Homo sapiens: one gene and its partner. The protein of the gene in region 1 purifies or fractionates together with the protein of each later gene. This does not show direct contact. Each region holds a gene or a part of one and is shown in the gene's direction. Other genes may lie near its edges.

Region 1 (3,657 bases):
ACATTGTGTATATACTTAGGAAATTCTTACATTAGAGTCTTCGGAGGTTGAATTGAATTACCTCTGAGGTTCTTTGCACTCTTAAGGTTTTTTTTTTTTTTTCAAACCTCTGAGGCTCCATGGGGTTTGCTATTACAGAACTGAATTGAATATTGAAGGGATAGAGAGTGGAGCCTGTACACAGAGGAGATTAGAGATAAAAGAACGTAACTTCTCTATCTCTTGAAGTTAACATAGCTGTGTCTGCCATTTAGATATGACCTAAGTTTTGTTAAAACCCTAAGCATCCCCCAACTACCATCCACCCTTCCAGAGCTTAAGAAGAAATACTCAGTTGAGAATTTAGTGTAAGGAGTTACTGGAGTCCTAACTTTATGCAGTTTTTCAGTTTATACTATCCTTAGATTTGTCCACATGTTCATGTTTTATTTTGTGAATGTTTTTGAGGGAGTTTTTGTTTTAAGGGGAGAATTGACGTTTGGTAACCTAATTGCTTGCTGATACGCTGGTGCAGTGACCTAAATATGTGGAATTTTCTGTGCAACAAGCTCCACATTGTATCCATGCTGTCAGTTGACTATCCTGATAGCTGCACAGTACTGGAATTCTAGTCGCTCATCTGGCAAGCAGTTTTAGAAATCGCCAGTGATTTTTCAATATATTACATTATAAATAATGTTACCCTATAAGTACCAAGAAACAGATTACTTGGAAGCATTTCTTATATTGATGCTCTTTTCATTATTTAAATATGAAAACTGATGTATAGTAAATTGAAATGTTCTATTTTTACCTTGAGGAAGATCCCGTAATGTCAGCAAATTATATCTGAACCTTTGTAAGAGTAAATATTTGCCTAAGGCAAGGGAGGCCTGGCCTGTTTCTTCAGACCAATGGATTTTTAAATTTGAACTTTACTTATAACTACAAAGTTTTTAATAGTAAAGTTCATTAATTTATAATTCATATCATTTTGTAGATGGAGCTTTATAATTAATGGCAAACATTTAAAAGTTCTTTTTATAAAATATAAGTAGTAGACTGTTAAATTAATGGAGAATTCGTATTTAATATAGTGACCGTTTTAAGGAACACTTGAAATTTCAGAAAAGGTAGTGAAACTGAGGCCGGGTGCGGTGGCTCATGCCTGTAATCCCAGCACTTTGGGAGGCCGAGGTGAGCGGATCACAAGGTCAGGAGATAGAGACCATCCTGGCCAACATGGTGAAACCCCGTCTCTACTAAAAATACAAAAATTAGCTGGGTATTGTGGCGTGCACCTGTAATCCCAGCTACTCAGGAGGCTGAGGCAGGAGGTGGAGATTGCAGTGAGCCAAGATCGTGCCACTGCACTCCAGCCTGGCAACAGAGCGAGACTCCATCTCAGAAAAAAAAAAAAAAAAAAGAAGGGGTAGTGAAACTGAAATGGAGAGATAGAGGCAGGATAGTAATTATCCAGTGTTTAAATCACCAGAACTGTAAGATCATGTTTTAGTCACTGAGACTTCCCAAATCTGTTGATGTTAGCAAATTGTTTTTAATGTATGATTTAATACATTAAAGGAAATATACAGAACTGTGGGTTTAACTTCAAAAAGCCAGTCTTACAGGGAAGACCTACACAAACATACATACTCGTAAAAGGAATTTAACAAACAGTATTTCATGGGGAGAGAGGAAGTACAGAGTGGGAGTCAGAGACTTGGGTTCTTGTCTGTGCCGAGCTAACTTGGGGCTTAACCTGTCAGTAGCTTAATTCCATCTTTGTAAACGTGGGAGTGGGAGACTATATCCGCTAAGGGCCCTCCTGACATTAAAAGCTTGATAATTCTCTTAATTATATTTGGGTAAAATTTTATGTCATTAGAAGGAGTTACATTGGGTATACAGTTGTTAAGTACTTAGCTTAATATTCAGTAAGCAATATTTAGTATGATGACTTCATGCTATTAAGAACAAAACTGTTTACCAAAAAATAATAATTGAGCCTTTTTACTTATGGGTTATGTTTACCATGAATTTCTTAGCTAATTCAGTGACATTTTTTCTCTCTTCCTATTTTTGACCACTTTGGCATTTAATGCTGGTGACCACTCATTTCTCGAAATTGTTCCTTCAGCTTTTACACTTTTTTTTTTTTTTTTTGAGACGAAGCCTCGCTCTGTCACCCAAGCTGGAGTGCAGTGGTGCAGTCTCGGCTCATTGCAACCTCTGCCTCCCAGGTTCAAGCAATTCTCCTGCCTCAGCCTCCTGAGTAGCTGGGACTACAGGCGTGCACCACCATGCCCGGCTAATTTTTGTATTTTTGATAGAGACGGGGTTTCATTATGTTGGCCAGGCTGGTCTCAAATTCCTGACCTCGTGATCCACCCGCCTTGGCCTCCCAAAGTGCTGGGATTACAGGCGTGAGCCACCGCGCCCGGCCAACTTTTACACTTTTTTCTTTTTAATACAAGAAAGTGTCTGCTTACCAAAAAAAAAAAAATCAACTAAAAATATTAAAATAAAACCACTTTCCCACCCCTCACACTACCAGGTGTCACGGTATGAGTAACAGTTTGGAGTATGTTTACTTGCTGCTTTTTAAGGAGTTTTTTCTTTCTTTTTTTTTTTTTTTTTTGAGACAGAGTCTCGCTGTTGCCCAGGCTGGAGTGCAGTGGTGCGATCTCGGCTCACTGAAAGCTCTGCCTCCTGGGTTTACGCCATTCTCCTGCCTCAGCCTCCCGAGTAGCTGGGACTACAGGCGCCCGCCACCACGCCCGGCTAATTTTTTTTGTATTTTTAGTAGAGACGGGGTTTCACCATGTTAGCCAGGATGGTCTTGATCTCCTGACCTCGTGATCCGCCCACCTCGGCCTCCCAGAGTGCTGGGATTACAGGCGTGAGCCACCGCGCCCGGTGTAGGAGTTTTCTTTTTTTAAAAACACTTCCTGTGGCTTGCTGATAAGAAGTTAGTTGCTCTTTTCCCTCCTACACTCGGAACTGTAGAATTCCTTTAGGCCCCACCCAATCCTCTGTTCCTCCTGTTTTCTAACCTACTAAACCAGACAGGTGTTCCCTCCTGCCTTCATCTAAACATCCATATTCCCTTGCATGATCATCACACAACCACACCCAACTCCTAAACCATTTTTTTCTTCATCCCCATCCAGTTAGGTCAGTTGCCTTATTATCATTTTTGGATTTACTATGCAAATTCTTGCCCTTATGAATATGTTCTTTTTCATCCTCCACCTAGAATTAGAATGTCCTCTGTCTATCCAGGTTCTGTTTGTGTCTCTGCCTGGTTTGAGTCCTGCTTTTCCACTCATCCTTCTCCGGCTCCTTCGAACATTTTCTTGAGATTTTCTAACCTACATATAATGAATGCTCAGTTAATGTGGTATAAAATATATTGTTATTATTGTTTCTTGTACATTGAGCTTATTACTCCATCATTTGTATCTTCCTATACGTAGAACAGTGTTGGAGTGTTGCTAGTTCAAGTACACTTTGAGCTAGCAATTGCATAATGCTGTGGGAGCTTACAAAGGTTAGTAGCCTCAGAGATGGGTAGGCAGAGAATTTTTTTTCTTTTTTTTTTGGTAGAGATGGGGTTTCACCATGTTGCCCAGGCTGGTCTCAAACTCCTGAGTCCAAGCAATCCTCCCGCCTTGG
Region 2 (3,657 bases), on another chromosome or scaffold:
AGCTTTAGTTTCTTAGGGTTAAACCCTTGGTAAAAATTAAGAATTTTTACTGCATGCCATTTTTAAAAGTCTTAAGTTTTAAAAACTTTATTAGACTATATTCCCTGTGCTCAAAGCCTAAGACAGTACTTGAAAAATAAATGTGCGTTCATTTTAGTTTTGGCTCATGACTAGCATAATTTCACCAAGAAGTTTTCAAAAGAGCTCCACATGATTCATCCCTGATCTTTAATCAGGGATGAATCATAATTATTTCCATGATACAGTTTTGTTATATTAAAGGAAAGGAGAACTAATGAATATTTTCATAGAAGTAGAGAATTTCTGTCCTCCCTTCCCTTCTCCCCACCAAAGGGGAGTCTTGAACTATTAGTTTGCTATGTGAGGTAAAATTCTTTAATTTAAATTACAGCCATATGGCAAATATCCTAAGAAAGTAGTTGTTATTTTTAAATTTCTTTATTGTATAATATTAGTATACTAATTGCAAACATTATTCAAATGTGATAGAAGTTTATATGGTAAAAAGAAAAAGTTTCCCCCATTCATTTTGGGCTCTTTTCTTTGTCTTGAGGCTCCTTTCTACCTTGTACTCCTCAAATTTTCCAGATATAAAATAATTTGATAGTTTGGTGTGGATCATTCCAGATTTTTTCCCCTGTACTTTCATAAACATATAAAATAGATAAATTTTATTAAATTTGATAATACTGCTCATGCTATTTTTTCTTTAACTTGAAACACTTAATATTATGTCTTTCAGTCCTGCCTTAATTTTGCTGTTTGCCCTCGGATCTCTGGGTTTGATTTTTGCGTTGATTTTAAACAGACATAAGTATCCCCTTAACCTGTACCTACTTTTTGGATTTGTGAGTACTCTGACTTTCTCTATTCCCTTAACAATTATTCCTGAGTTTTAAATAAATGCATATATAATACATATATAACAACGGCAGAACAAAATTAATGAGTTTTTTTTAGAGTACTTTAGGAAATTAATTGTAATTTTATAGTCTTTTAAAACTTTTAACAGTTTATTAGTTTCAAATATTAGTATGTAGTGGAAAAAATGCTGAATTGGAATAGATGACCTGGCTTTGCTGCTATCTGATTATGTGACACTTGGCAAGGCATTTATCCTTTCTGTGTCTAAGTTTTTTCATATGTAAAATGAGAATTTTAAAGTAGATAAATCCTTGTGATACCTTCTACCTCTAATATTCTATTATTTTCTTTGGAGAAAATTATGTTGTGGCTTTAATTTCATAAAATTCAAATTCTTTATTGTTAACTCTTCTTTGTTATTATCTTATCACTCTGATCTTTTAAAGAACCATTTTGCTCAAATTATGTGCATTAGTAACTTTTTTCAAAATTATAGTTGGGAGAACCCAACTTTAAGTCATGTATGTTGAGATATTTGTGAAAATTAAAACCCAAACTACCACTTATGAAAATTCAGTTTAGAATATGACCAGAATAAGGGGATAAGCCTCAAGTTATCTGTCTAAAAAATTATTTTGCCTCTTCTCATCCAGTATGACTAGATTCTAACCTAAAAATTTACTTCAGAACATTCCAAAGTAATATTAAGAATACTTGGGTGGGTGCAGTGGCTCATGCCTGTAATCCCAGCACTCTGGAAGGCTGACGTGGGCAGATTGCTGGAGTCCGAGAGTCTGAGACCAGCCTGGGCAACATAGTGAGACCCCACCTCTACAAAAAAATACAGAAATTAGCTGGGCATGGTGGTGTGCACCTATAGTCCCAGCTACTTGGGAGGCTGAGGTGGGAGGATCACTGTAACGGGGTTGCGGGGTGGAGGCTGCAGTGAGCTGAGATCACGTGACTAAACTCCAGCCTGAGTGACAGAGTGAGACCCCATCTCAGACAAACAAAAAAAGAATACTTGTAGTCAAATACGAGTGGGAAAAGCTATTGATTAGATTAAAATGCTTTAAACTAAAAAGTTTATGAATTCTGATAATGAGTTTGTGTTAAAATGAAAAGCTGATGACTTTGAAAGTTTCAGTAATAGGAAAGATTATTCATTTAAATCTTAAGCTCTTTTGTTTGCAAGATTGTCAATTCTAACTCAAGTTATTGCAAATAACAAGGAGTTTAAGGATGTAAGAGCTTGAGAACCCACCAACCCAAATCCTCTTCAAGAAGATGAACTGGAGAACTGGAGGAAGATTCCAGAAATGATGATATCATAGGAAATTCAGTGACAAATGTTTGTGTTCCCCTCTCCCTTGTTCTATTACATCTCTTCTCTACCTCAGTTGTCCTTATACATTGTTTTCCCTTTTTCTATCTTTAATTTTTATATGACCCATTGTTTGCCCCCAGAGTCATTTAACTTTAGCTCCCACTGCCATTGCTTCAATCTCTGAGTTCAGATTCCTGAGTCAGAAAGAATCTGGTCCAGGCGTGGTGGCTCACGCCTGTGTGATCCCCGCACTTTGGGAGGCCGGGGCAGGCATGTTGCTTGAGTTCAGGAGTTCGAGACCAGCCCGGGCAACATAGTGAGACCTTGTCTCTGCAAAAAATACAAAAATTAGCCAGATGTTATGGCACGTGCTTGTAGTCCCACTACTTGGGAGGCTGAGGCAGGAGGATCACTTAAACCGGGAGGTGGAGGTTGCAGTGAGCTGAGATTGCGCCACTGCCCTCCAGCCTCAGTGACAGAGTGAGACCCTGTCTTAAAAAGAAAGGGGGGTGGGAGGGAGGAAGAAAGGAAAAGGAAGGAAGGAAGGAAGAAAGGAGAGAGAAAGAATCTGATTGGTACACTTGGTTGTTGGCACAGGTCACATTGTAGGCTGTTAGTCAATATATGGGTTGCCAGGCCTTGGGTAAGAGCCAACTCCTGGCCTAGTCAGCTATGTCTCAGGAAAGAGGAAGTATAAAAAAAAAGACGGCCATATAGAATTCCTCTTCGCATCTACATGTAGCCTCCTCTCAGAAAGACTGATTTCTGTGTGGGAAGAGGGTGTGGTTCAACTTTTGCCCAGCAGGGAGAGGTCCCACTAGAAAAGTATCAACCAAATGCTTATAGGCAAGATAATCACTGATTGTTAAATCTATTCATCATGCCCATAGCTAAAAATGGTTTAACAAATAAGTATGTACAATACATTTCCTTAAATTACTCAGGGACCTTTAACGTTAGGAGTTTTTTGGTCCTGATCCACCAAGATAAGAAAGGAGGTGAATCTTATCTTGCCCTAGTAGGAGTGTGTGTGTGTGTGTATGCATGCACATAGACAGACAGACAGATAGATAGATAGTCCTCAACTTAGAATCATTCACCTTAATGTTTTCCACTTTTATGATGGTGTCAAAGCAATATGCAACCACGAAATTTCAGACTTTAAGCATTGGTGATTCTTTAACCAAAGACACTCTGAGCTACATTTTTTACTTACGATATTTTCAACTTACAGTGGGGTGTATTGGCATGTAACCCCATTGTAACTCGAGGAGCATGTGTGTATATGTTTTAAAGGGACATTATCATGTTTTCCTAGTCTTATCTTAACTCTTATTTATACCATCCTGTTTCCTTAGATACTTGAATGTGTATGGGATTTCTTTCCTAAAATCTTGTCATAAATAGCAAGAATATAGTATAATCATGTTGCCCTGCCCCCCCCA

Evidence for each region. Proteins that work in one complex are often made in the same cells at the same time.
Region 2: the proteins of CMTM6 (region 1) and TMBIM4 purify together in Homo sapiens (co-immunoprecipitation; one large-scale study listed by IntAct). This does not show direct contact.

What each region holds. Positions count from the first base shown.
Region 1 is NC_000003.12:32,496,346-32,500,002, reverse strand, and holds part of CMTM6 (CKLF-like MARVEL transmembrane domain-containing protein 6), read left to right. Parts: intron 1-3,657. UniProt on the Homo sapiens protein: Master regulator of recycling and plasma membrane expression of PD-L1/CD274, an immune inhibitory ligand critical for immune tolerance to self and antitumor immunity.
Region 2 is NC_000012.12:66,149,483-66,153,139, reverse strand, and holds part of TMBIM4 (protein lifeguard 4), read left to right. Parts: intron 1-763; coding exon 764-869; intron 870-3,657.